Linked DNA regions of Homo sapiens. The main gene of each other region encodes a partner of the protein of the gene in region 3 in a complex. Each region holds a gene or a part of one and is shown on either strand. Other genes may lie near its edges. The genes, in order: SERPINE2, SERPINC1, F2 and SERPIND1. A codon is read from its position in the direction of its gene.

Region 1 (6,045 bases), on a different chromosome or scaffold from region 3:
GAAAACCTCCATGTTTCTCATATCTTGCAAAAAGCAAAAATTGAAGTCAGTGAAGATGGAACCAAAGCTTCAGCAGCAACAAGTAAGCACTGGGTCACGTGGCAGGGCTTCCTCTAGCAGGGGAGCAAACACATTCCTGTATACTCATTGGTTGAGCAAATATGTAATGCACCCTCTTTCCAGCCAGGCAGTGTGTGTGGGTTAACCCTCAGGAGACAGCAGTGAGTACAGACAGACTGAAGACCTGTAACCACAAAGCTCAGAATCTGTTTCATTAAAGAAAAGCATTTCAGTGAGAGAAATTCCTCTAGGACAGGAGTCAGCAAACTTCTATAAAGAGCCAGGTAGTATGTATTTCAGATTTGTGTGTCATACCATCTCCATTACAGCTTCTTAGCTCTTTCACTGTAGCATGAAAACAGCAATCAACAATACAAGTAAACAGATGTGGCTGTGTTCCAATAAAACTTTATTTATAAAAACAGGATTTGTCCTGGTAGACTTGCCTTGAGGAAAATAGTTTGCTGACCCCTGCTCTCAGGAGGATAAAACATGTTCTGGCTTCTTACTGGCAAAAAAGACCAATCTTCAGATTTGAACATAAAATAAACAACAAGTACTTAAAGGAAAATAGGCAATCAGGTCTATCCAGGATAAACCGAAGAATTCGCCAGCATCTGTTGAATTGCGGCAGGATTGCTGTACAGCCTTCCTTGATAATTAGAACATCCACATCTGCTTCCTCCTCAGTGGTTTACATAATGAAGGAGAAAACAGAACAATCGTAAGTCAGTTTTTTCACCCCTCATTATCCGTAGGAAAATAGATGAATAGATTTGGCCAACTCTGTGAGCCCATAAAGTGAAAATCTTAGCTACACTTGCAGCTGGGTCAAATATCTCTGGTCATTGAAACATACCAGTTATACTCACAATAGATGTGTTATTGCCTTTCTCGAATAAACGTTTTAAAAATTCCTTTAAAGAAGCATTTAAAACAAAGACCCTGAAATAAGAGGGTTGGAAATTTTAAGATGCTTTTTGTCTTTTCTAGGTAATTTTAAGTAACATCTAAAAGTTATTGACCAGTTTTGCTGAGTGTAACTATCAGGACCAGCTACATAGTTTGTGGGGTCCTGTGCCAAATGAAAATATGGAGCCCCTTGTTCAAAATGTATAAGAATTTCAAGATAGCAACAGCAGAGTATTAAACCCAGTGCAGGGCCCCATGTAACCGCCCAGGTCCTCCTGTCTTAGTCCGCCTGGGCTGCCATGACAAAATACCGTTGACTGAGTGGTTTAAACAACAGAACTCACACTTCTGGAGGCTGCGAGTTCAAGATCAAGGTGTTGGTGTTGGCAGGTTTGTTTCTCCTGAGATCTCTGGATCTCCGGAGGTCGCCCCCTCCCTGTGTCCTCACATGGTCTTTTCTCCATGTGACACATCCCTGGTGTCTCTCCCACTTCAAATAAGGGCAACGGTCCTATTAGAATAGAACCCTACTTAACCTTCATTACCTCCTCAAAGGCATTATCTCCAAATACAGTTACGTTAGGGGTTTGGGGCTTCAGCATATGAATTTGGGGGGAGACACATTTCAGTCCATAACACCTGCTATTTAATATTTGTTTTTAATAACCCTGGGTAAAAGGGCTTGCCCCAGCATAACTGCAGCTGTTTCCTTTATAACATCAAGCCCAAGTGTTCAATACTTCATGGGGTTTGAGCAAGAGGACTGAGCTATTGCAACAGGCATGTGGTAGTAATGCCACACACCTACCCTCCCGTGAGGCCCTGGTTCAGGCTTATTAAATGGAAACAAGCCTGGCAGACGAGGAATGGCCAAGACCCATGAGGCTAAAGAAGTTTGCTTTCCAAGTCAGATGCCTACACCTGGTGAGTGGAACAGCAGTATAAGGTAGTAGGTCCCGGATGAGTGGTCTACATTCCAGTGCAGAGGAAACCTAAATAATGTGCCAAAGGAGAAGGCACAGACACAAAAGCTAAGAATTGGACTGGGCCTTTATATACAGAAAAGATTTAGAGAAGCTAAACAGGACCAGGGGTCGGGCGCGGTGGCTCATGCCTGTAATGCCCGCACTTTGGGAGGCTGAGGCAGGTGGATCACTTGAGGTCAGGAGTTCAAAACCAGCGTGACCAACATAGTGAAACCCTGTCTCTAAAAATACAAAAATTAGCCAGGCGTGGTGGTGCATGCCTGTAATCCCAGCTACTCAGGAGGCTGAGGCAGGAGAATCGCTTGAACCCGGGAGGCAAAGGTTGCAGTGAGCCAAGATCGCGCCACTGCACTCCAGCCTGGGTGACAGAGTGAGACTCCATCCCCAAAAAAAAGGACTGGGGGCTTTATCAGCAAAGCAGATGGTGTGAATAAAAAATAGCTAATAACAATAAATATGCATTAGATGTGTTTAGTGGCAAACACTGTTCTAAGAGCTATAATATATCTTATGTCATTTAATTATGTCATTTAATTCTCATCAAAACTCTATGAGGAGTAAGTATGTTTATCAGAGATGGTGCTTGTGTAGAAGACATGAGAGAGTAATGTAAAGGGCCTGGCCCAAGGTAGGCTTAGTAAATGGTGACCATTGAGCCTGTTGTAACATGGCCAGCCTATGGAACAAGCATGAAGTGTGTCTTCAGACACCAGCCTCTGAGGGTCCATGAAGCTAGCTAACTTGCTGGCCTTATGCTTACATGGTCTCATGTAATGTGCACAACACATTTTCCTTTTCTTCCCGTAGCTGCAATTCTCATTGCAAGATCATCGCCTCCCTGGTTTATAGTAGACAGACCTTTTCTGTTTTTCATCCGACATAATCCTACAGGTAAGTGACTCTCCTCTTCCATCATGCCCTCTCTGTTAGAATTTCAAAAGGTATATTGCACTCTTCATTATATCCAACAGTGGTGCCCATAGTCCATTTCCCTAATGTCAATAGTTGCAGACACTTTGAATAATATAACCACCCATGTTAAAGAGATAGGAAAATAAAGGCTGTGTTTACAGATGTGATGGAATCTTTTACACACTGACAGGATTTTAGGTTTTGCGGATTGTTGTTTTTAACAGAGAGGCTCAGCATCCCTTTGGAACACTTTTGACATCTATTGACTTTTCCATATTTATATAAATGTGGTGGTTCAATTTTGCTAGAAGCTATATAACTTCAACTTTTGTGTATTAGTCTGTTCTCACCCTGCTATGAAGAAATACCCTAGAGTGGGTAATTTACAAGGAAAAAGAGGTTTAATTGACTCACAGTTTCACATGGCTAGGGAAGCCTCAGGAACCTCACAATTACGGTGGAAGGCATCACTTCACAGGGCAGCAGGGGAGAGAATGAGAGCCGAGTGAAGTGGGAAACCCCTTATAAAACCATCAGATCTCATGAGAACTCACTCACTATCACAAGAACAGTATGGGGGAAACTGCTCCTATGATTCAGTTTTCTCCACCTGGTCCTGCCCTTGATATATGGGGATTATTAACAATTCGAGGCAAGATTTGAGTGGAGACACAGAGCCAAACCATACCACTTTGTAAGCCCACTCTATTGTTATACCTTGGGAATTGTTAATACAGTAGATTTTTGCTCTGTGAGTCATGGTTCAAACTTGGCTCTGGCCTTAAGCCTCATCTTTAAAATGAGGACAACAGTAGTGCTGACTGCTTATTACAATTATGAAGTATAAGTTCATCTTTGTAGAGAGGTTGGCTTCTTGTTGGTACAAGAGTAGGCACTAATATATTTTAGCTTTTACTATTTTATTTAATCAGTAATATGAGATAGTTCCTTATTCTCTTATCTCATTGCATCTGTGATGTTCTAATTGGCATGCCCCAGAACTGAGCCAGCCAATGAGGAGCTTCTGGCCACATGTGGCTATTTAACATTAACTTTAAAAATTCAATTTCTGGTTGGGTGCGGTGGCTTATGCCTGTAATCCCAGCACTTTGGGAGGCCAAGGCGGGTGGATCACCTGAGGTCAGGAGTTCGAGACCAGCCTGGCCAACATGGCAAAACCCCATCTCTGTTAGAAATACAAAAAATTGGCTGGCAGTGGTGGTGGGTGCCTGTAATCCCAGCTACTTGGGAGGCTGAGGCAGGAGAATTGCTTGAACCCAGGAGGCGGAAATTGCAGTGAGCCGAGATGGCGCCATTGTACTCCAGCCTGGGTGACAGTGCAAGACTCTGTCTCAAGAAATAAAAAATAAAATTAAAATTCAACTTCTAAGTCACACTAGCCACATTTTAAGCACTCTCTGGCCACATGTGACTAGTGGCTACCATGCTAGACAACAAAGATATAGACCATCTCTACCACTGCAGAAAGTTATACTGGACACTACTGAGCAAGAGGTCAAACATGATTGTTTCCCTTCCCTTAAATAGAATACCTTCCATCTTATTTTAAGGATTATTAATTTACAGAGTCATGCATTGTTTTCTTTTAATTCTGTAGGTGCTGTGTTATTCATGGGGCAGATAAACAAACCCTGAAGAGTATACAAAAGAAACCATGCAAAGCAACGACTACTTTGCTACGAAGAAAGACTCCTTTCCTGCATCTTTCATAGTTCTGTTAAATATTTTTGTACATCGCTTCTTTTTCAAAACTAGTTCTTAGGAACAGACTCGATGCAAGTGTTTCTGTTCTGGGAGGTATTGGAGGGAAAAAACAAGCAGGATGGCTGGAACACTGTACTGAGGAATGAATAGAAAGGCTTCCAGATGTCTAAAAGATTCTTTAAACTACTGAACTGTTACCTAGGTTAACAACCCTGTTGAGTATTTGCTGTTTGTCCAGTTCAGGAATTTTTGTTTTGTTTTGTCTATATGTGCGGCTTTTCAGAAGAAATTTAATCAGTGTGACAGAAAAAAAAATGTTTTATGGTAGCTTTTACTTTTTATGAAAAAAAAATTATTTGCCTTTTAAATTCTTTTCCCCCATCCCCCTCCAAAGTCTTGATAGCAAGCGTTATTTTGGTGGTAGAAACGGTGAAATCTCTAGCCTCTTTGTGTTTTTGTTGTTGTTGTTGTTGTTGTTTTATATAATGCATGTATTCACTAAAATAAAATTTAAAAAACTCCTGTCTTGCTAGACAAGGTTGCTGTTGTGCAGTGTGCCTGTCACTACTGGTCTGTACTCCTTGGATTTGCATTTTTGTATTTTGTACAAAGTAAAAATAAACTGTTATGAGTAGTAAAAATAAAGCTATTTCTCTGCTATTTGAAAATACAATAGAAGAAACTGAGCCTTTTAGACATTCGTCAGCCTCTTCTAATAAACCTTTGTACTATGTAAACATCAGGAAATTCAAAGCTCGGAGACTTTTCCTATTCTTTTCCTCTAGACCTGACAATCAAACACTTCCCCGCTTCAACACATCTCATTTTCTAGATCACTTCAACAGAGTAACTATTACAGTAATCCTAGTTCTACTCTTAGCTACATTCACTCCAGCAATGGCTAAGAATTCTCAGCAAAGAAACGGATTTTGTAGCAAGTGCCGAATGAAGTTGCTGGGTACCATGTATTTTGGAACTCCTGGGGGAACAGGAACTGTTTCGTTTTTGGTGATGATAGGCAGGAGTGTTTTTGAAATGACAGGGTTTTTTTGTTTGTTTTTTGTTTTTTTTTTGTTTTTTTCAAGGTAACTTTCCAAGTTGAACTCAAACATCATAATTCTTTTTTTCCTTTTTCTTTTTACAGAGACATGCCTCGCCATCTTGCCTAGGCTAGTCTTGAACTCCTGACCTCAAGTGATCCACCTGCCTCAGCCCCACAAAGTGCTGGGATTACAGGCATGAGCCACTGGCATTCAGCTTACAAATATCATAATTCTGATTTTACCATTTGCCTGCTTTTTAAAAAACTAATTTCTTAAAGATTTATGCAGTCTAAGCTAAATCAGAATTTAAGTTTAAAACATTTATCAAAACTTAAAAACATTTTTTTATTTTTAGCCCTTGAGTTCTACTTGCCTTAAACTATACATTAAAACCTCACATTCGGCAC
Region 2 (7,015 bases), on a different chromosome or scaffold from region 3:
TAAATCCTGGTTTCCTCTTTTGAGCACCTTAAAATGGGGGAAGGCTTGTATCTTCTCTCAACTTCTTTTCAGTAATTCTTTCATCTATATGTTTACTCATTAATTTGATCATTTATTTATTTATTCATTCAGCACTTCCTCTGTGCCAGGCAATGTGTAGTGCCAGTCCCTCCTCTGGTGGAAGAAGAGTAGCTTTACCATATGGTGACATCAGGCATATAGGCTCTCGTGGAAAAAAATTCTAGGATAGTATTTTTTTTTTTTTGAGATGGAATCTCGCTCTATTGCCCAGGCTGGAGTGCAGTGGTGCAGTCTCGGCTCACTCCAAACTCTGCCTCCCAGGTTCAAGCAATTCTCCCACCTCAGCCTCCTGAGTAGATGGGATTACAGGCACACGCCATCACGCCCAGCTAATTTCTATATTTTTAGTAGAGATGGGGTTTCACCACGTGGCCAGACTGGTCTCAAACTTTTTTTTTTTTTTTTTTGAGACGGAGTCTCGCTCTGTCATCCAGGCTGGAGCGCAGTGGCACGATCTCAGCTCACTGCAACCTCTACCTCCCGGGTTCAAGCAATTCTCAGCCTCAGCCTCCCGAGTAGCTGGGATTACAGGCCCCCGGCACCATGCCTGGCTAATTTTTTTTCTTCTTAGTAGAGATGGGGTTTCACCATGTTGGCCAGGCTAGTCTTGAACTCCTGACCTCGTGATCCACCTGCCTTGGCCTCCCAAAGTGCTGTGATTACAGGCGTAAGCCACCGCGCCTGGCCTCAAACTCTTGACTTCAAGGGATCGGCCTGACTTGGCTTCCCAAAGTGCTGGGATTACAAGCATGAGCCACTGCACGGGGCCTAGGATGGTATATTGAGACCAGGGGCCCAGGAAAGCCAAGAGAAGCCTCAAGGACGTGAGAGTGTTTTCTGGCTCTGGGAAGTATGGATCATTTCAGCTCAGTGACTTAGTTCCCACCCCCTTCCCCCCACTGCCTTTTGTGGGAGGGAAGTAGGGCATGATAAGATGAAATGTCATAGATTGATTGATCACTGTTGGCCTCTGGGGCTATGACAAGTCATGGATGGAAACACTAGATCTTTAATCTGTCCTTGGCTTGGCTGCATGACAGTCTTTCTTCAAGTTGGATCACACTTTGGAAGCAGAGTTCATCAATAGGGAGGCATGAGTCCCTTCAAGATGGTATACGGTGCTTATTTGAAACTTGGACACTAAAGTCTGTGGGTCTTAGGAGGGTTCCTTCTATTCTAGTGGTCAATTTCCATGGAACTTCATCACCTTTGCTCAGGGCTCTGGGGTGAGTTAACCCAAGTCTTCACTCTTTGAAAGAAATTGTAGATTTAAAAACTCTGAAGACACATAATACTGCCTTCTCTGGGCCCTTCAGTCATTTTTGTATACATTGGTACTGGTCTCAAAGTACTTCCATATCACTCATGTCTCTGTCCCCAGGTAAGATCTTAAATGTAACCCTTCCTACAAGAAGAACAGAACAGAACACTGCTTCCAAACCACACATGTTCCTTTGGTCCTCCCCTCTACACAAACGCCATGTGTTGGGAAAGCAGGGTGAGACTGAATCTCTCTGGAGAAAAGAGAGATTCAGCACCAAGCTTTTGATCAAAAGCATAATCCCCCCCTAAAAAAAGTGCCTATTGGAGCAAAATCAGGAAAACCAAAGGCAGAGAACAGATAAAACCAAAAGGCCTTTTGTAGCCTGAGGAGAGAGCATGGAAAGGGCAGGAGGGGAACAGCCTCACCCATTTTGCCTTGGGGATGGTGAAGGTGGGCATTGGGGGATTCCAACTTCAAAGCATGGATGACTTCTAAGTCCTTTTCAGCCCTGAGCTCTTAGATTCTGAGCCTGTTTAATCCCTTGCTGATAGATTCACTCTTCCTTTTTCACCCCTACCACCAGTATCCCAGAGCCTCCATGAGCAGCTGGCCCCAGTAGATGCCACAAAAGTGTTTGTTACGAGAAGGACACCGTCCTGATTCTCTTCTCTGTCCAGAATCACCAAGAGGACTTTTCCCATTCCAGCAAGAAAACGTCTGTGTGTTGATCTAGAGGCGTTTAGAGACTTTAGGTGGCAACCTAGTCTCTCTTTTTCCCTTTATCCTTCCTACCCTTCATTCTTCTTTTATCCTTTTATTCATCAGAACACAAGAGTTGAGCATTTATGCTGTCCCAGGTACTGTGCTTGAAGGAGTTAACAACTGAGGTGGCTATTAGTCAGAGACTGACCAGCATGTGCTCACCACCCATGTTAACTAGGCAGCCCACCAAACCCACCACCATTTTTTTTTGACTTCTATAGGTATTTAAGTTTGACACCATATCTGAGAAAACATCTGATCAGATCCACTTCTTCTTTGCCAAACTGAACTGCCGACTCTATCGAAAAGCCAACAAATCCTCCAAGTTAGTATCAGCCAATCGCCTTTTTGGAGACAAATCCCTTACCTTCAATGAGACCTACCAGGACATCAGTGAGTTGGTATATGGAGCCAAGCTCCAGCCCCTGGACTTCAAGGTGAGTTGCAGATGTTACCCCTGACCTCCGAGTTCTTCCTCTCCACTCAGAGATTGAGGAGGTGGAGAAACAGCATCCAAATTCACACTGCTTTGCTGCTGAAGACTGCTGGAGGGCTGACTAAAAGTTAGAACCCCTGCAATAGTTATTCTTACTTGAAACCTGAGAAATCAAAGGTATCCATGCTTGGATTGTAGTGACTGCCCAGAAAACATGAATTAATAATCAATTCTTCATTCCATCCACCAACTTCAAATATATACCAAAGGGTGTTTTGAAGATGCCAGTTCTACAAGATATCTTACTTAATTTGAACTGTTATCATGGTCAAATAAAGTTGGTACATGATGCATGTTACATTCTCCTCTTGGAGATTCATGAAGCACATGGGCCTATGAAGGTTCTGAGAAACTCTGCAACAAAGAAATCTGTTGGCTTTATTCAATCGGCATTCCTCAAATGTATTTGACTGCATGGGCATTTCTCTCCTCCATATAACCTGCCAACCCCATATAACCTGCCAACCCCATATAACCTGCAATCATTCATTGCTTCCCCTGGCACATGCCTTGGAAATTCTACTTTTGTGAGTTAAGGTTTTCCAAAGTCAGAGAAAATAATATTTTATCTTCTTTTTCCCAGACTATTTTCGCCTTCCTTCTTTTCATTTATTTCTTCCTATTTCTTTTTGTTCTTTTTCTTCTGATAATATTTATTAACTACAGGAAAGATTCATGGAACTATATTAGATATGTGAGGCTTCCCCAATTTGGGTTAGAGCAATGGCTTCTTAATCAAATGGTGGGAAAGGACAGAGGGATGGTGAGAAAAATAAAATGCTGCCTGGGAAAATGGAGAAGCCAATTGAATAGCACAGGTGAGTAGGTTTATTTTCTGTTCTCCTCAGGAAAATGCAGAGCAATCCAGAGCGGCCATCAACAAATGGGTGTCCAATAAGACCGAAGGCCGAATCACCGATGTCATTCCCTCGGAAGCCATCAATGAGCTCACTGTTCTGGTGCTGGTTAACACCATTTACTTCAAGGTACTCAGAATGGCCCTGGAGAGACCCCAGGGACTTCCTCTTGCTCTTCAGCTTACCCCCTTTTTTTTTAAATGGCGAGACCGAAGCCCTGAGAGGGCAAATGGACTGCCGAAAGCTACACAGGTACAGGTCAGCAGGGCAGGTCAATCTATTATTTATTTATTTATTTATTTTTGACAGAGTCTCGCTCTGTCGCCCAGGCTGGAGTGCAGTGGCGTGATCTCGGCTCACTGCAAGCTTCGCCTCCTGGGTTCACGGCATTCTCCTGCCTCAGCCTCCCAAGTAGCTGGGAATACAGGCACCCACCACCATGCCTGGCTAATTTTTTGGTTTTTTTTTAGTAAAGACGGGGTTTCACCGTGTTAGCCAGGATAGTCTTGATCTCCTGACCTCGTGATCTGCCCACCTCGGCCTCCCAAAGTGCTGGGATTACAGGCATGAGCCACCGCGCCCGGCAGATTGGCTTCTTTCACCTAGTAAAATGCATTTACTGTTCCTTTGTGTTTTCGTGGCTTTGTCACTCATTTCTTCTTAGCATGGAATAGCATTACATTTGGTCTGGATGTACCACAGTCTGTCTATTCATCTACTGAAGGACATTTTGGCTGCTTCCAAGGTTTGACAGTTATGAATAAACCTACTCATAATTCCATCATTCTGACACAGCCATTGTTAACCTTTTTGTGCATATCCCGCCAGTCTTTTTTCCGAATAATTATATATTAATGTAACACTATAATATGGATATGTCTTGTGTCAATAACTATCCTCCTATGAATGTTTGTGTTCTTACTTTGTGATTCTCTTCCAGGGCCTGTGGAAGTCAAAGTTCAGCCCTGAGAACACAAGGAAGGAACTGTTCTACAAGGCTGATGGAGAGTCGTGTTCAGCATCTATGATGTACCAGGAAGGCAAGTTCCGTTATCGGCGCGTGGCTGAAGGCACCCAGGTGCTTGAGTTGCCCTTCAAAGGTGATGACATCACCATGGTCCTCATCTTGCCCAAGCCTGAGAAGAGCCTGGCCAAGGTAGAGAAGGAACTCACCCCAGAGGTGCTGCAAGAGTGGCTGGATGAATTGGAGGAGATGATGCTGGTGGTCCACATGCCCCGCTTCCGCATTGAGGACGGCTTCAGTTTGAAGGAGCAGCTGCAAGACATGGGCCTTGTCGATCTGTTCAGCCCTGAAAAGTCCAAACTCCCAGGTTTGTCTAGGAAGGAGTTTCCTCCCTTCTCCACCCGCAAGGTAGTCTGACCAAAAGTGGAAGAGTTGGAGAAAGAATAGAAAGGAGCAACAAGTCAGGACTCCTGGATACTGATCCTAGTTTCTACTGCTAATTTGTGGAAATCTCTTTTCCTTTTGAGACCTCAGTTTCCTCTTCTGTAAAAGGGAAGTTTGTTCTTGGATCTCCATGGGCCCAGCTAGCACTGGTGCCCTGTGAGTCTGTATCAGGTAGAGGAGATGGGACCAGGTGGAGAGGAATTTGAAAGGGCATTGGAATTCAGAGCAAAGAGACAGATATTAAGAGCTGGGGAAATGTGGTTCCCATTACACAGGCCTCACTGACATTTATTATTATTATTATTATTACTTGAGACAGAGTCTTACTCTGTTGCCCAGGCTGGAGTGCAGCGGTGCGATCTCGGCTCACTGCAACCTCTGCCTCCCGGGTTCAAGCGATTCTCATGCCTCAGCCTCCTGAGTAGCTGGGATTACAGGCACACGTCACCATACCTGGTAATTTCTGTATTCTTAGTAGAGATGGGTTTCACCATGTTGGCCAGGATGGTCTTGAACTCTTGACCTTGTGATCCGCCTGCCTTGGCTTCCCAAAGTGCTGGGATTACAGGCGTCAGCCACCGCACCTGGCACATTAAAATATCTTTTAAAGAAGTTGGCTGGCCAGGGTGGCTCACGCCTGTAATACCAGCACTTTGGGAGGCTGAGGTGGGAGGATCGTCTAAGCCCATGAGTTCGAGACCAGCCTGGACAACATAGTGAGATGGTCTCTACAAAAAATAAAAAAAATTAGCCAGGCATGGTGACGCACACCTGTAGTCCTAGCTTCTTGGGAGGCAGAGCTGGGAGGATTGCCTGAGTCCGGGAGGTCAACGCTGTGGTGTACTGTGATCACACCACTGCACTCCAGCCTGAGCAACAGAGTGAGGTCCTATCACTAAATAAATAAATAAATAATAAAATAAGTTTACGATGTTAAGTAATTAGATTTATCTTTATTGACCTTTTTTTTTTTTTTTTTTTTTTGAGACGAAGTCTTGCTCTTGTCCCCCAGGCTGGAGTGCAGTGGTGCAATCTTGGCTCACTGCAACCTCCACCCCCCAGATTCAAGTGATTCTCCTGCCTCAGCCTCCCAAGGAGCTAGGATTACAGGCGCCTGCCACCACGCCCGGCTAATTTTTGCATTTTTAGTAGAAACGGGGTTTCACTATGTTGGCCAGGCTGGTCTTGAACTCCTGACCTCAGGCGATCTACCTGCCTTGGCCTCCCAAAGTGCTGGGATTACAGGCGTGAGCCACTGTGCTATTGGGCTGTCTTTAAGCTAGTTTTGAAAACTAAAAATGTTGCCAGACTGGAAAGAAAGATGTTCCTTCTGGATGGAGTGAGTTTTTTCTGTAAGAACAGAGTCTTGCCGTTTCTCTCTCCCACAAAAAGCTGAAGCCTGAGAATGAATTATCAGGAGCCATGCTGAACAAGCCCAAAGTACTTTTATTATTATTATTATTATTATTATTATTATTATTATTATTATTTTTGAGATGCAGTTTTGCTCTTGTTGCCCAGGCTGGAGTGCAGTGGCGTGATCTTGGCTCACTGCAACCTCCACCTCCCGAGTTCAAGCGATTCTCCTGCCTCAGTCTTCCAAGTAGCTGGGATTACAGGCATGCGCCACCACACCTGGCTAATTTTTGTATTTTCACGATAGAGACAAGGTTTCACCATATTAGTTAGAGTGTCTCCAACTCCTGACCTCAGGTGATCTGTACACCTTGGCCTCCCGAAGTGCTGGGATTACAGGTGTGAGCCACTGCACCCAGCCCCCAAAGTACTTTATTATTTTTAACACATATTCATTGTGAGAGTATGATTAGGTGAAGATTTAGGATTTCTTCTTATGTTTCAAAAAGCCCCAAAGGATCTCTTAATCCAAACTGAATTCCCATCTGTGGGTTGAAGCCAACTTTCTCCCATCTCACAAAGACTTCTCCGGTCTTCCTTCCAGGTATTGTTGCAGAAGGCCGAGATGACCTCTATGTCTCAGATGCATTCCATAAGGCATTTCTTGAGGTGAGTACACCTTCCCCACTCTCTTAGGGTACAGAAAGGAGATGCATGAACAGCAGGAACACGTGGAAAAGGCCTGTTTCCAGTGTTAAGGCATGCAAAAGGCCTCCACAGGCCTGCTATAA
Region 3 (7,303 bases):
CTGCGCCCAGCCTCATTTGTTAAATTACGTACTCAACAGACATTTTACAAAGTTCCTGCTACGTGCCAGGCACTATATCAGGTGCTGGGGATTTTAAGAGAATCAAATACAGTCTCTGCCTTCAAGGAATTCAAAATCTCAAAAGAGAACAAAAATACAAAATATTAAAATGATTGCGGCCGGGTGTGGTGGCTCAAGCCTGTAATCCTAGCACTTTGGGAGCTGAGGTGGGCGCCCAGGCCAGGGGTTTGAGACCATCCTGGCCAACATAGTGAAACCCCCAACCTCTACTAAAAATACAAAAATTAGCTGGGGTGTGGTGGCACGCGCCTGTAATCCTAGCTACTAGGGAGGCTGATGGGGGAGAATTTCTTGAATCTGGGAGGCAGAGGTTGCAGTGAGCTGAGATCATGCCACTGCACTTCAGTCTCGGCAACAGAACAAGACTCATCTCAAAATACATAAATAAAAATAAATAATTCAATAAAGTGATTGCAAGAAAAGTTCTGTTCAAGGCACCAAGAGACCACAGGAAAATGAGTGTCTGGTTTGCCAGAAAAATGAGAGATGGCTTCCCAGGAGAGGCAGAGTTCTGCCTGGCCTGGTGGGATGCATGGATGAACAAACAAGTGGGCATTCCAGTCAGAAGAAACAATCCGTGGAAAGACCCAGAGGCATGAGAAGCTGAGCTAGCAGGGACAGGTAGACCAGGGCCAGTTGAAAAGGACCTTCATCACTTTTTCATCCTGCTGGCCAAGAGAAGCCACAGAATGGAAGCTCCATGAGGGCAGGGCTGTGACTGTCCTATTGGTTGATGTGTACTGAGCACCCGACAGTGCCTGTCATATGGTAGGCACTTAGCGAATATTTGGAGGCCACTGTTGAGTGAATGGGAGAACTGCTGGTTGCAGAGGAAGAGGGGCTGGGTGAATGCAGGTTCAGGATTGTGGACCTGCATGAGCTGGGAGGTGGGGGATAGACAACTTTGCAGGGAGAGAGGAAATAAGTCCCCAGGCTCCAAGGCTGACCGGGGTGGGGTCTCCGCAGGTAACTGTGCTGAGGGTCTGGGTACGAACTACCGAGGGCATGTGAACATCACCCGGTCAGGCATTGAGTGCCAGCTATGGAGGAGTCGCTACCCACATAAGCCTGAGTGAGTGAGGGGCCGGCCTTCCCACCATGGGCTGAGAACAGGGAGCAAGCGTACCTCAAGCCCAACAGCCTCCTGTTGGGCAATTTCCTGTTCCAGAATCAACTCCACTACCCATCCTGGGGCCGACCTACAGGAGAATTTCTGCCGCAACCCCGACAGCAGCACCACGGGACCCTGGTGCTACACTACAGACCCCACCGTGAGGAGGCAGGAATGCAGCATCCCTGTCTGTGGTAAGCTGGGGGCAGTGGGGCGGCCCATGGCCAAGGCCCGGGGGCTTCATGGGGCCTGGCAGCCTGGGATGGGAACCAAGAATACTGGCTACCCAGGCACAGTGGCTCATGCCCGTAATCCCAGCACTTTGGGAGGCTGAGGCAGGCAGATCACCTGAGGTCAGGGGTTTGAGACCAGCTGGGCCAACATGGCAAAACCCCGTCTCTACTAAAAATACAAAAATTGCCAGGCGTGGTGGTGGGCGCCTGTAATCCCAACTACTCTGGAGGCTGAGGCACGAGAATCGCTTGAACCCGGGAGGCGGAGTTTGCAGTGAGCTGAGATCCTGCCACTGTACTTCAGCCTGGGCGACAAGAGCAAAACTCTGTCTCAAAGAAAAAAAAAAGATGCTGGCCACCTTCAGAGCTGGCGTCAGTCATTCAGATCATATCTGTGCCTATTGCTCAGTAAAGTCAGGGAATCAGGGGATCTGAGTGGGGGGATCTGCCAGCCTCCTCCTCCCCCTCCCCACTCTTGACTTCCTTATGGTCCAGGCTGTGGCTCATTCCAAACATGCCTCCTTTCTGATCAAGGCACTCCTCCCTCCGGGAAGCCCTCCCTAGCCATTTCAGTCCACACACCCTGTTCTGAGTATCACAGAGCAAGCCTTGTGCAGTTTGGCCCTGCGGGATTCTGTCATTATTATTTCCTTGGTGTGTTAAGTAGCTATAGCCACCCCTTCCCTGAGGCAGACCACAATAAGCATTTCTTTTTCCCATGAGGGTTGGCAGGTGTGGCTGCACTCGCTAATGCGTCTGTAGGGTCAACTGACGGAGGTTGGCCCTGGCTGGGTGGCTCTGATTCAAATAATGGGTCCAGCTGAGTCTGGCTCCTCGTTGAGGGTTGGGCCTAGATCTGCTCCACGTGCGTTCATGCTGGGGCTGAGGCTGAAAGAAGGTACCTGGGAAAACTCTTCTTATGCTGATGACAGACACAGAAAACAATGAACAGAAAAGCGTCTTCTGTCCTGAAGGCCTGGCTCAGAACAGGCACAGTCAGCCCTGCCCACGTTCCATTGGCCAGAGCAAGTATATGTTCAAGGCCAGGGTCAAGAGGTAAACTACACCTCAGCCTGTAAAATCACAGAGCAAGGGATGTGGATGCAGGCAGGGGTAAAGAATTTGTGCCGATTACCAGTCCACAAACATGGGTTAGTGTTTGTTCTCTAGGCATCCCTGTCGGGCCCATTGCTCATTCCTGGGGTTGGTCTTTTTTTTTTTTCTTTCTAAGATGGAGTCTCACTCCCTTGCCCAGGCTGTTGGAGTGCAGTGGCCCTATCTCAGCTCACTGCAACCTCCGCCTCCTGGGTTCAAGCGATTCCCCTGCTTCAGCCTCCTGAGTAGCTAGGATTACAGGCGTGTGCCACCACTCCTGGCTAATTTTTTTTTATGTTAGTAGAGACGGGGTTTCACCATGTTGGCCAGGCTGATCTCAAACTCCTGACCTTGTGATCCTCCCGCCTCGGCCTCCCAAACTGCTGAGATTACAGGGGTGAGGCACTGCGCCCGGCCTTTTTTTTTTTTTTTTTTGAGATGGAGTCTCACTCTGTCACCCAGGCTGGAGTGCAGTGGCATAATCTTGGCTCACTGCAACCTCCACCTCCTGGGTTCAGGCGATTCTCTGCCTCAGCCTCTCATATAGCTGGGATTACAGGCACACGCCACCACGCCTGGCTAATTTTTGTATTTTTAGTAGAGACGGGGTTTCTTCATGTTGGCCTGGCTGATCTTGAACTCCTGACCTCCGGTGATCTGCCCAGCTCGGCCTCCCAAAGTTCTGGGATTACAGGTGTAAGCCACTGCGCCTGGCCCCTGGAATTGGTCTTATAGCAAGTTTATCCCAACAAAAACAGCTACTATTTACTCCCCAACCCCCATACACACGCACACACATTGATGATAAATAAGTTGCAGGCTTGCAGAAATTGACCCATCCAGGTGAACAGCCTAGTGATCCCAGCAAGCGTCCTGCTGTGCAGCTATAAAAACATGACTCCTCCAGCAGCTCCAGGCAGCCACTACCAGTTAATTACAGATGGCCTAGGAGGCCAAACCTGGTTACTATCTCTGGTTTATTATGTGCCAGACACTTATGCTGTATATTTTGTTTAATCCTCTCAACAAACCTGCAAAAGTGGCATTAGTAACCCCTTTAAAGGCAAACGGTCAGAAGCCCAGAGAGGTTAAGTAACCTGAGGTCACACAGGCAGAAAGCAGCAAGACCGGGGTTCACACCCCTGTCTGTTCCGGTCCATGTGTGGTCTCACTCACTCTGCTGCCTCCTTGCCCCTCACCCACCAGGCCAGGATCAAGTCACTGTAGCGATGACTCCACGCTCCGAAGGCTCCAGTGTGAATCTGTCACCTCCATTGGAGCAGTGTGTCCCTGATCGGGGGCAGCAGTACCAGGGGCGCCTGGCGGTGACCACACATGGGCTCCCCTGCCTGGCCTGGGCCAGCGCACAGGCCAAGGCCCTGAGCAAGCACCAGGACTTCAACTCAGCTGTGCAGCTGGTGGAGAACTTCTGCCGCAACCCAGACGGGGATGAGGAGGGCGTGTGGTGCTATGTGGCCGGGAAGCCTGGCGACTTTGGGTACTGCGACCTCAACTATTGTGGTGAGCTGCCTGGGTAGGGGGCCTGAGTTGCAGGGACAAATCCTGGTGGGAATAACAACAGCCGCTTCTGCTTATCGAACGCTTACCTCATTGAGTGCGCTCATTACAGCCTTACAGTAACCAGGTGGGGGGTAAGGTCCTGTGCCCATTTCACAGATAAGTACACTGAGGCCCCAGGAGGTTATTGCCTAGTAGCCCAACTGTGCATGCACGCTTAACCTCTGCACCAAATGGCCTCCAAGGCCCGTAGGGGAATTGGGGGGATCTAGGGGATGGGTGAGGAATGGCCCAGCCCAGTCCCAGCCGGTGCCTGGGTCCCAACAGAGGAGGCCGTGGAGGAGGAGACAGGAGATGGGCTGGATGAGGACTCAGACAGGGCCATCGAAGGGCGTACCGCCACCAGTGAGTACCAGACTTTCTTCAATCCGAGGACCTTTGGCTCGGGAGAGGCAGGTGAGGTAGTGGGCATCCGAGGGGATGCGGGGCTGCGGGGCTGGTGGCCAGGACTTGCCCCTCACTGCTTGGCTTGCTCTGCAGACTGTGGGCTGCGACCTCTGTTCGAGAAGAAGTCGCTGGAGGACAAAACCGAAAGAGAGCTCCTGGAATCCTACATCGACGGGCGCATTGTGGAGGGCTCGGATGCAGAGATCGGCATGTCACCTTGGTGTGTCCTGGAGCCCTGCGCTACCATTCACTCCTGGGGGCAGGTGTGCTGCTGGACCCCCACCCTCAGGCCCTGCCTGCAGGCCTGGGCTTTACAGATGACAACAGCTGAGCATCCAGGATCCCACCAACTCCACACAGCAGCCACATGAGATGGGTTGTTTACTTCTTTTTTTTTGTTTCTTAGATGGAGTCTTGCTCTGTCACCTAGGCTGGAGTGCAGTGCTGCAATCTCGGCTCACTACCTCGATCTCAGCTCACTGCAACTTCTGCCTTCCGGGTTCAAACGATTCTCTTGCCTCAGCCTCCTGAGTAGCTGAATTTACAGACATGCGCCACCACACCCGGCTAATTTTTGTATTTTAAGTAGAGACAGGGTTTCACCATGTTGGCCAGGCTGGTCTTGAACTCCTGACCTCAAGTGATCCACCTGCCTCAGCCTCCCAAAGTGCCGGGATTACAGGCATGAGCCACCACACCCGGCCCATGGGTCCTTTACTTCTAAGCAGATGGTAAAGCTGAGACTGACGGAGCTGGTGGCTCACCTCCGCGCACAGCTAATGGGTTTGAATCCAGTTCTTCTGATTCCAGAGCTGTGCTACGCTATGTGAACTCTGGACTGGAAGGACCTAGTTAGGGGGTGCAAAAAGCAGGAGGCAGGTCAGGTGCAGTGGCTCACCCCTGTAATCCCAGCACTTTGGGAGGCCAAGACAGGAAGATCACTTGAGGGCAGGAGTTCGAGGCCAGCCTGGGCAAAATGGTAAAACCCCGTCTCTACTAAAAATGCAAAAATTAGCCAGGTGTAGCAGCATGTCCCTGTAGTCCCAGCTACTAAGGAGGCTGAGGCGGGAGGATCGCCTGAGCCCAGGAGGCTGAGGCTTCAGTAAGCTGTGACTGTACCATTGCACTCCAGCCTGGGTGACAAGAGTGAGACCCTGTCTCAAAAATAAATAAATAAATAAATAAAAAAGTGTGAGGCAGCCCCTCAGCATCACACGGAGGCTCCAGGCCCCAAAGGCGGCCAGCCCAAGCTTGGATCTGGGCCCCGGAGGCAGCTCTGCCCAGCTGGGTTCTTAGACCTGGGATTGTTACTTCTAGGGCTGGTGTAGAGGCAGCCCCCTCATCCTCAGCTCCTAATGCTTCCTGCTGCCCCTCCCAGGCAGGTGATGCTTTTCCGGAAGAGTCCCCAGGAGCTGCTGTGTGGGGCCAGCCTCATCAGTGACCGCTGGGTCCTCACCGCCGCCCACTGCCTCCTGTACCCGCCCTGGGACAAGAACTTCACCGAGAATGACCTTCTGGTGCGCATTGGCAAGCACTCCCGCACCAGGTACAGAACTGGTGGCCCGTGGGTGTCTGGCAGGGGTCTGAGTCCTCCAAAGCGATCATGAGGGGCCCTGGTGGCTCCGGGACACATAGGATGTTCTGTATACCCCCCAGAATATAACATCCCAGCAGTCTCTGCTGGAAAGCCCATTTGGTCACGTCCTGACTGAGGCTTGGAGCTGCGGGGAGAAATCCGTCTGTCTCCTGGTCCCTCCAACACTAGGATATAGCCCATGTGGGAGTCTCTGAAAATAGAGTCTGTCTGGACTAGGGCGTGCAGCCTGTGCCCCTGTCCCCGTCCTCCAGGCTGTCTGACTCCAAAGCCCTGCACGGCTTTAGGCCCAGGAAGAAACACCCAGGGGGCTGCCATGGCAGGAACCAGCCCTATCCCCTCCCTGGTGGCCTGCAGGACACACTGTCTCCCAGACCCCAAGGGCAGGCAGTTTCCTGCTCCTTGCTGGGTGAACCTGCAGCTTCTCCATTTCTTTCTTGGGGTCTCTGCAGGTACGAGCGAAACATTGAAAAGATATCCATGTTGGAAAAGATCTACATCCACCCCAGGTACAACTGGCGGGAGAACCTGGACCGGGACATTGCCCTGATGAAGCTGAAGAAGCCTGTTGCCTTCAGTGACTACATTCACCCTGTGTGTCTGCCCGACAGGGAGACGGCAGCCAGGTGGGCCACCAGATGCTTGTTAGCTGAGGGGCAGAAGCCAAGTTCTGGGCCTGGCTCTGATACCAAGTAGCCTTGCAAGAGCCCCTTTCCCTTTTCCAGGCCTCGGTTTCTTGGAGTGAACCCAAAAGTTCTTTTCAGTACTGGCGTTTTATTTTTTATTTATATTTATTTATTTACTGACGGAGTTCCACTCTTGTCTCCCAGGCTGGAGTGTAGTTGTGCGATCTTGGCTCACTGCAACCCCACCTCCTGGGTTCAAGCGACTCTCCTGCCTCAGTCTCCTGAGTAGCTGGGATTACAGGCTAATTTTTGTATTTTTAGTAGAGACTGGTGGGTTTCACCGTGTCGGCCAGGTTGGTCTCGAACCCCTGACCTCAAGTGATTCACCCGCCTCGGCCTCCCAAAGTGCCGAGACCACAGGCGTGAACGTCTGTGCCCAGCCAGCTCTGGCGTTTTAGATTCTGGTCTCTAAGAAATGGCGTTGGGGCCAGGCGGCTCCTGTGGGGGTTGGCTCTCACTAGGCCCTTCTTCCTTCCCCAAAGCTTGCTCCAGGCTGGATACAAGGGGCGGGTGACAGGCTGGGGCAACCTGAAGGAGA
Region 4 (7,000 bases), on a different chromosome or scaffold from region 3:
CGTGATCACGGCTCACTGCAGACTCAAGTGATCCTCCTACTTCAGCCTCTCAAGTAGATGGGACCACAGGCGTGTGCCATCACACCAGGCTAATTATTTTTCTTTTCTTTTTTTTTTTTTTGAGACGGAGTTTCGCTCTTTTTGCCCAGGCTGGAGTGCAATGGTGCGATCTTGGCTCACCACAACCTCTGCCTCCTGAATTCAAACGAATCTCCTGCCTCAGCCTCCTAAGTATCTGGGATTACAGGCATGCGCCACCACGCCGGCTAATTTTTTTGTATTTTTTGTAGAGACAGGGTTTCTCCATGTTGGCCAGGCTGGTCTCGAACTCCCGACCTCAGATGATCCGCCCACCTCGGCCTCCCAAAGTGCTGGGATTACTGACCTGAGCCACCGCACCCAGCCTATTTATTTAATTTTTCACAGAGATGAGGTCTTGCTATGTTGCCCACACTGGTCTTGAGCTCCTGGGCTCAAGTGATCTTCCTGCCTTGGTCTCCCAGTGTTGGGATTATAGGCGTAAGCCACAGCGCCTGGCCGGCAGTTCTTTCTGGGGTGATTAGAAGTTGGGACCATGTATTACCTGTCTGAGTCAGCATTATAAACACCTATGGTCACTGTCCTGGCAAAACATGGAATCATCAAAGCTCATCTAACCAGAGTGCAGTTAATAACCAGGAAGTAAGCAAGAGAAAGACAAAGGATTTGGCAGTCAAAACAGATTTGACAGGCCAAGTCAGATCCTCCTCTGAACGAGTCAGAGGAACAAATAAAGACAGGATTGCCATAATGCCTCTGTGCTAAAAGCTTATCTTGTTTACTTAAATAAAGGGAGTGCCCCTCAGGTCTTGAGTAAGAGCTTGCTGACATCACCCTCACACAGACTTTATCTCTTGTTTCTAACCCTGTGTTAGAAGCAGTAACACAGAAGATTTAGTTGCTCCTGACAGCAGTGGGAGCTATTGTCTAAGAGATACAAAGGAGAAAAAAGTATACCTGCAGCAAGTGATATCACCTCTGGGGCTGCCACCACATCACCTCACTACGCCCTGAGGGGGTCTCAGCACTAGACAAGTTCCAAATCTTTTGCAAATTAAACAACCCCAGGTCAGGCGTGGTGGCTTATGCCTGTAATCCCAGCACTTTGGGGGGCTGAGGTGGGTGGATCACCTGAGGTCAGGAGTTTGAGACCAGCCTGGCCAACAGAGCAAAACCCCATCTCTACTAAACAAAATACAAAAATTAACCAGGCGTAGTGGTGTGCACCTGTAGTCCCAGCTACTTGGGAGGCTGAGGCAAGAGAATTGCTTGAGTCCAGGAGGCCGAAGTTGCAGTAAGCCGAGATCGCGCCACTGCACTCCAGCCTGGGTGACAGAGTGAGACTCCATTTCAAAAAATAAAAACAACAAAAGCCAATTACAACAACAACAACAAAAAAACAACGAATTAAACAACCCCAAAGATTGCACAAATTTCAAGTATCTTTAGAATATGTTTTCAGAAAGCCTGGCCCATGGACATTTTTCAACAGCATCTCCATTGCAAAGGTGGAATGGTGTGAGTCACACAGGCATGGCTGAGTCCCACTAATGCACATCCCTTCTAGGTACTCTCCAATCACCAGCCCCAGGTGCCCACTCAAGCCCAGCTCTTAGTGAGGTTTCCCTGACTCTCTGGGCACTTCCACTCCTACCACACAGGGTAGAGCCACACCCCTTTCCGTACCCCCATGTGCTCTGGCAGCATTATTTTGAGAGCCTTCGCTTTACTGCACGTCTGTCCCATCTGTCCCCTGACTGGTCCATGAGCCCCTGGTGGGAACTTTGTCTCTGGTAACTAAACACTGTCTGGAGGTGGTGGACAAGGTGTCTGGAGAAAAACAAACTCCTCCCTGGGATGCCTGAGCTCCCAGGATTCTAGAAGGTTAGTTTTGCAAACCTTTAAAGAAGGGATTTTCATCAAGGGGCCCACAGATCCTTCATTGAGGTTTATGAGTCCCACATCAAAGGTTGGGTGTCTATCTACATCAGATTCTCTTAAAGTCCATGATCCTAAAACAGTTAAGAACTAATGCTGTGAGGGCCTCTTCCTGGGTCAAAGCCACAGGGAACCTGCCATGTGGATGCTGCAGCGGGGTGTGGATCAGCCAGGCCGCCTTTCACTGTGTTCTGTTTTCCCTCCCAGCTTTAGCTCCGCCAAAATGAAACACTCATTAAACGCACTTCTCATTTTCCTCATCATAACATCTGCGTGGGGTGGGAGCAAAGGCCCGCTGGATCAGCTAGAGAAAGGAGGGGAAACTGCTCAGTCTGCAGATCCCCAGTGGGAGCAGTTAAATAACAAAAACCTGAGCATGCCTCTTCTCCCTGCCGACTTCCACAAGGAAAACACCGTCACCAACGACTGGATTCCAGAGGGGGAGGAGGACGACGACTATCTGGACCTGGAGAAGATATTCAGTGAAGACGACGACTACATCGACATCGTCGACAGTCTGTCAGTTTCCCCGACAGACTCTGATGTGAGTGCTGGGAACATCCTCCAGCTTTTTCATGGCAAGAGCCGGATCCAGCGTCTTAACATCCTCAACGCCAAGTTCGCTTTCAACCTCTACCGAGTGCTGAAAGACCAGGTCAACACTTTCGATAACATCTTCATAGCACCCGTTGGCATTTCTACTGCGATGGGTATGATTTCCTTAGGTCTGAAGGGAGAGACCCATGAACAAGTGCACTCGATTTTGCATTTTAAAGACTTTGTTAATGCCAGCAGCAAGTATGAAATCACGACCATTCATAATCTCTTCCGTAAGCTGACTCATCGCCTCTTCAGGAGGAATTTTGGGTACACACTGCGGTCAGTCAATGACCTTTATATCCAGAAGCAGTTTCCAATCCTGCTTGACTTCAAAACTAAAGTAAGAGAGTATTACTTTGCTGAGGCCCAGATAGCTGACTTCTCAGACCCTGCCTTCATATCAAAAACCAACAACCACATCATGAAGCTCACCAAGGGCCTCATAAAAGATGCTCTGGAGAATATAGACCCTGCTACCCAGATGATGATTCTCAACTGCATCTACTTCAAAGGTAAGAGGCACCTTTACAGTTCTCACAGCAAACCCACAACATACTATTTTTGTATGTGGGTAGATTGAATGCCAAGAACTGTACTGTAGCTATAATTTATCCAGGAAAACTAGACACAAGATTGACTCTGGAACGGGGACAGGGAAGGCCAAGCTGAAGTGACAGTAGCATCTGACACTTACTGAGCCCTAACTCTGTGCTTTAACACAGCCTTGTGAGGTCATCACTGTTATTAGCATCCCCATTTTACAGAGGAAGCCACCAACACATGAAGTAAAAGGATGGGCTGGGCGCGGTGGCTCACGCCTGTAATCCCAGCACTTTGGGAGGCCGAGGCAGGCAGATCACTTGAGGTCAGGAGTTCGAGATCAGCCTGACCAACAGACCAACATGGTGAAAACCTGGCTCTACTAAAAATACAAAAATTAGCTGGGCCTGGCGGTGGGTGCCTGTACTCCCAGCTACTTGGGAGGCTGAGGCAGGAGAATCACTTGAACCTGGAAGGCAGAGATTGCAGTGAGCCGAGACTGTGCCACTGCACTCTAGCCTGGACGACAGAGTGAGACTCCATCTCAAAAAAAAAAAAAAAAGAAGTAAAACGATGCTCCAAGGGCACCCAGTTATTAAGGGGCAGAGCCAAAGCTGAACCCAGGGAGGCCAACCCTAGCAATCTGTTAAATTGGAAGAAATAATACAAAAACTGTTTTAGCATTTGGCCAGCCTGGATTTGAGTTTTCTCTTTTCCTTTCCCAATTATCAATAAGCAGGAATATAGACAAAAGGCTAAAGAAATGCACCTGTGAACTATTCAGCTTGAGCAGCTGACATTGACACCTACAAGTGCTTTTCAGGATACTTTTGAACTACTGGGCAGGTGGGATGGAGAAATAAATTACTATTTCCCCAGCAACTGTTCTGGGCTGAGCACAAGGGCACTTTTTAAGGAGGTCACCCCACACCCATCACACACACATAGGACCCCTGGAATCCTAGGAATAAATAAGCATGGATTTGTAAAATCCAAACCTCTCTTTTCAAATATCCTCACCTGGACCAGACCAGAAGAAACCTCTACTTTACTCTCTAAGCTGAGAGTGTGGAAGGGGAAACACGAGGAATGGTTCGGCTTCAGGACTAATTGCGGTGACACACAACCACTTCTCTTTGCCACCAAGGACTACCAGGTACCTGCAAAGGGCAGTACTTGGAGGCCAGTGCTTTCTGCTAGTTAGCTCCCGTGGTTTTATAGCAGCCCAGGCGAAGGAAGGAGACCCCCCCCAGCTCCTGGCTTCTGTTCAGGGAAAGGGGGCCAGAGCCCCTCCTGATCTGTCCACACACCTGCTCTGTGCCTTGGCTGAGGCCCCTGCAGCTCTACAAGGCAGGCATTCTGCTGGATAGGCCAAGCAGGGTCACTCTGACACCCAGGTTTCCACCCCAAGGCATGGCACAATGCTGGCCTCCTGTGGGTGGAATCAAAGGCTGAGTTCTAACAGGCTTGCGGCAGACACACACACAGAGACCACATGTACATGATGAACACACATATCCTTTTCATTACAGGTTATTAGTACAAGTTTTGGAATTGAGCAAACAAGAGTCTAAGCGCTGGTTTCACCACTTCTCGTTTGTGTGACCTCAGACAAGTCATTCAACATCTCTATGACTCAGTTTCCTTATCTTTATCACAGAGATGACACCCACTCTGACAGGGCCGAGGGAAGAACCATAAGCGATGGCAATGCAACAGAGTGGCACATGACAAGAGCTCAGCGAATTTGAGGGAATGAAACTGTAGATTACAATACTAGTACAATATGATAAACATATGATATTGTTAGTGACATTTATTTTACTTCTACTAGCAAATAACCTATGTTTAGGACTGACTTTAGAACAGGCTGGCAGAAGCATTTTTGGCAGCATCAAAGTCCTCCAACCTACTGGTCTGTTGGAGCCCCCCAAGTACACCAAAGAGCCTCTGCATTAGCCCTGGCTGAGGGTTCAGGGACAGGCAGAGAAGTACAGCAGTGAGCCATCCCTGCCTGCATGGAGGTGGAGAAATGATCAGGCATGGTCAGTTGACAATCTCCTAAACACAGTAACCCGTGTCATACCACAGTGTAAACACACGTGCAAATGCTTCTGCTTCCTTTCCCCATCATGAGAATAGTCACTCAATGCCGGGCATCACAAGGGATCAAATGCTAGGAGTACCCAATCATTCATGGATGCTTCTCAAAGGGGACGAGTGTCTAGAAGTGTAATTTTAATTTCACTTAATTTCATATGGAATCATCTCCATTACTAATTTTGTTCTAATTTTAATGTGATAATCACTTTGTAAAGCACAATAAACAGAGGCAGGCTCTCATGAGGAAGTCAGAAGGAAAGAATCCCAAGAGACATGGGACAGCTCCATCCAAACTGAAAGGGCCGTGATTCCCAAAAGAGCAATTTTGTCCCCAAGGTCTGAAGACACTTTTGGTTGTCACAACCTGGGGGGTTGGAGTAAGCATTACTGGTATCTAGAAGGGGGAGGCTGGGGATGTTGCTAAACACCCTACCATGCACAGGGCAGCCCACATTGCCACAAACTATTATGTGGCCCAAATGTCAAAAATGCTGAGGTTGAGAAACCCTGGGTGAGGCAGACTCAGGGAGAAGGGAATCGAGCTTCACTCACAGGCAGGCAGGAGCTGTCTGGTACTTCAACCTCCAAGACACCTCCTGCTCATCTCATCCTGGCTGCTCTACCCACCAGCTAGAAACCTTGAACAAGTTACTTCACTTCTTTGTGCCTCTGTTTCCTCATATGTAAAAGAGGGATAACAAAACGCACACAACTTGCATGTTGCTAGGAGCAGAAATGAGATAATACAGGAAAGGTGCTGAGAAGAATGCCCGGCACATGGCCAGTTCTCAACTACTAGTCACCCATTACTATTAGTTACTCACATCTTAGAGCTAACATAGACATGGGCTTATTCCTGGATACACAGCACTGTCCCCATATCTACAGTGGTGATCCTAAGGGCAACATGGCATCACCCAAATGTCTTGTTAGTCACTACAGAATCACAGTGTGAGGGATGAAGGCCATCAAGACAGAGCTGAGGCTGGCAGGGTGGCTCATGCCTATAATCCCAGTGCTTTGGAAGGCTGAGGCAGGAGGATTGCTTGAGGCCAAGGGTTTGAGACCAGCCTAGGTAACATAGCAAGACCCCATCTACAATTAAAAAAAAAAAAAAAAAGACAGAAAGAAAAAATAGCCAGGCGTGGCATGTGCTTGTAGTCCAAGCTACTGGGGAGGGAGGCTGAGGCAGGAGGATTCCTTGAGCCTGGGAGTGTGAGGCTGCAGTGAGCTATGATGGCATCGCCGCACTCCAGCCTGCATGACACAGTGAGACCTGGTCTCAAAAACCAAATAATAATAACAGTAATAAAAGCTGGAAAGAGCTCAAAGTTACTCATTTGACAGATGTGACAGATGAAGAAATAGAAGCGAGTTAGGTGCCTTACCATGGTCAAACAACTAGTTCGTATCAGACCCTACTCCAGAAACTATTCCAGTCCGGGTAACCTCTCGTTAACCTCTCTTGTTAGAAATGCAAATTTCTGCCCAAATCAGGCCTCAGGAATCAAGAGACTGTGGGGTCGGCTCTGCAGGCTATCTGAATGAGGCCTCCAGGGAAATCAGATTCACTCTCAAGGGTGAGACGATTTCCCTAAAGGAACCTTCTCATAACAGCCTCTTCCTGTGGCCTTTACAGGATCCTGGGTGAATAAATTCCCAGTGGAAATGACACACAACCACAACTTCCGGCTGAATGAGAGAGAGGTAGTTAAGGTTTCCATGATGCAGACCAAGGGGAACTTCCTCGCAGCAAATGACCAGGAGCTGGACTGCGACA

What was found.
Region 1: the proteins of F2 (region 3) and SERPINE2 are in contact, whole or in part, in a crystal structure (PDB 4DY7), measured with the Homo sapiens proteins. Residues at the interface, in NP_000497.1 of Homo sapiens: His406 (codon at 5,949), Tyr410 (codon at 5,961), Pro412 (codon at 5,967), Trp413 (codon at 5,970), Trp455 (codon at 6,596), Arg456 (codon at 6,599), Glu457 (codon at 6,602), Asn458 (codon at 6,605), Leu459 (codon at 6,608), Glu509, Thr510, Ile542, Asp562, Ala563, Cys564, Glu565, Trp590, Gly591, Glu592, Gly593, Cys594; in NP_006207.1 of Homo sapiens: Val225, Arg288, Ser355, Ala356, Thr358, Thr359, Ala360, Leu362, Ile363, Ala364, Arg365, Ser366, Ser367.
Region 2: the proteins of F2 (region 3) and SERPINC1 are in contact, whole or in part, in a crystal structure (PDB 1TB6), measured with the Homo sapiens proteins. Residues at the interface, in NP_000497.1 of Homo sapiens: Leu389 (codon at 5,898), Leu390 (codon at 5,901), Cys391 (codon at 5,904), His406 (codon at 5,949), Cys407 (codon at 5,952), Tyr410 (codon at 5,961), Pro412 (codon at 5,967), Trp413 (codon at 5,970), Asp414 (codon at 5,973), Lys415 (codon at 5,976), Trp455 (codon at 6,596), Arg456 (codon at 6,599), Glu457 (codon at 6,602), Asn458 (codon at 6,605), Leu459 (codon at 6,608), Asn506, Thr510, Trp511, Thr512, Ala513, Asn514, Val515, Gln519, Arg541, Ile542, Asp562, Ala563, Cys564, Glu565, Gly566; in NP_000479.1 of Homo sapiens: Lys258 (codon at 4,410), Glu264 (codon at 4,428), Asn265 (codon at 4,431), Arg267 (codon at 4,437), Tyr285 (codon at 4,491), Glu287 (codon at 4,497), Gly288 (codon at 4,500), Lys289 (codon at 4,503), Glu345 (codon at 4,671), Met347 (codon at 4,677), His351 (codon at 4,689), Ala419, Val420, Val421, Ile422, Ala423, Gly424, Arg425, Ser426, Leu427, Asn428, Pro429, Asn430, Arg431, Val432, Lys435.
Region 4: the proteins of F2 (region 3) and SERPIND1 are in contact, whole or in part, in a crystal structure (PDB 1JMO), measured with the Homo sapiens proteins. Residues at the interface, in NP_000497.1 of Homo sapiens: Lys384 (codon at 5,883), Ser385 (codon at 5,886), Pro386 (codon at 5,889), Gln387 (codon at 5,892), Leu389 (codon at 5,898), Leu390 (codon at 5,901), Cys391 (codon at 5,904), His406 (codon at 5,949), Cys407 (codon at 5,952), Tyr410 (codon at 5,961), Pro412 (codon at 5,967), Trp413 (codon at 5,970), Asp414 (codon at 5,973), Lys415 (codon at 5,976), Leu423 (codon at 6,000), Arg425 (codon at 6,006), Ser430 (codon at 6,021), Thr432 (codon at 6,027), Arg433 (codon at 6,030), Tyr434 (codon at 6,533), Lys440 (codon at 6,551), Ile441 (codon at 6,554), Ser442 (codon at 6,557), Met443 (codon at 6,560), Asn458 (codon at 6,605), Leu459 (codon at 6,608), Lys470 (codon at 6,641), Trp511, Ala513, Asn514; in NP_000176.2 of Homo sapiens: Glu75 (codon at 2,423), Asp76 (codon at 2,426), Asp77 (codon at 2,429), Asp78 (codon at 2,432), Tyr79 (codon at 2,435), Leu80 (codon at 2,438), Leu82 (codon at 2,444), Ile85 (codon at 2,453), Phe86 (codon at 2,456), Asp89 (codon at 2,465), Asp91 (codon at 2,471), Val305 (codon at 6,883), Glu306 (codon at 6,886), Met307 (codon at 6,889), Thr308 (codon at 6,892), His309 (codon at 6,895), Gln327 (codon at 6,949), Asp343 (codon at 6,997), His361, Lys362, Arg388, Thr457, Val458, Gly459, Phe460, Met461, Pro462, Leu463, Ser464, Thr465.

The regions. Positions count from the first base shown.
Region 1 is NC_000002.12:223,974,348-223,980,392, reverse strand, and holds the end of SERPINE2 (glia-derived nexin isoform b precursor), read left to right. Parts: coding exon 1-82; intron 83-2,765; coding exon 2,766-2,849; intron 2,850-4,488; coding exon 4,489-4,526; 3' UTR 4,527-5,348; downstream 5,349-6,045. UniProt on the Homo sapiens protein: Serine protease inhibitor with activity toward thrombin, trypsin, and urokinase. Promotes neurite extension by inhibiting thrombin. Binds heparin.
Region 2 is NC_000001.11:173,907,328-173,914,342, reverse strand, and holds part of SERPINC1 (antithrombin-III isoform 1 precursor), read left to right. Parts: intron 1-2,328; coding exon 2,329-2,544; intron 2,545-3,451; coding exon 3,452-3,589; coding exon of another isoform or gene 3,590-3,712; intron 3,713-4,400; coding exon 4,401-4,791; intron 4,792-6,828; coding exon 6,829-6,893; intron 6,894-7,015. UniProt on the Homo sapiens protein: Most important serine protease inhibitor in plasma that regulates the blood coagulation cascade. AT-III inhibits thrombin, matriptase-3/TMPRSS7, as well as factors IXa, Xa and XIa. Its inhibitory activity is greatly enhanced in the presence of heparin.
Region 3 is NC_000011.10:46,722,133-46,729,435, forward strand, and holds part of F2 (prothrombin preproprotein), read left to right. Parts: intron 1-1,047; coding exon 1,048-1,153; intron 1,154-1,249; coding exon 1,250-1,386; intron 1,387-3,726; coding exon 3,727-4,041; intron 4,042-4,365; coding exon 4,366-4,494; intron 4,495-4,578; coding exon 4,579-4,705; intron 4,706-5,863; coding exon 5,864-6,031; intron 6,032-6,531; coding exon 6,532-6,705; intron 6,706-7,247; coding exon 7,248-7,303. UniProt on the Homo sapiens protein: Thrombin, which cleaves bonds after Arg and Lys, converts fibrinogen to fibrin and activates factors V, VII, VIII, XIII, and, in complex with thrombomodulin, protein C. Functions in blood homeostasis, inflammation and wound healing.
Region 4 is NC_000022.11:20,777,113-20,784,112, forward strand, and holds part of SERPIND1 (heparin cofactor 2 precursor), read left to right. Parts: intron 1-2,184; 5' UTR 2,185-2,200; coding exon 2,201-3,089; intron 3,090-6,859; coding exon 6,860-7,000. UniProt on the Homo sapiens protein: Thrombin inhibitor activated by the glycosaminoglycans, heparin or dermatan sulfate. In the presence of the latter, HC-II becomes the predominant thrombin inhibitor in place of antithrombin III (AT-III).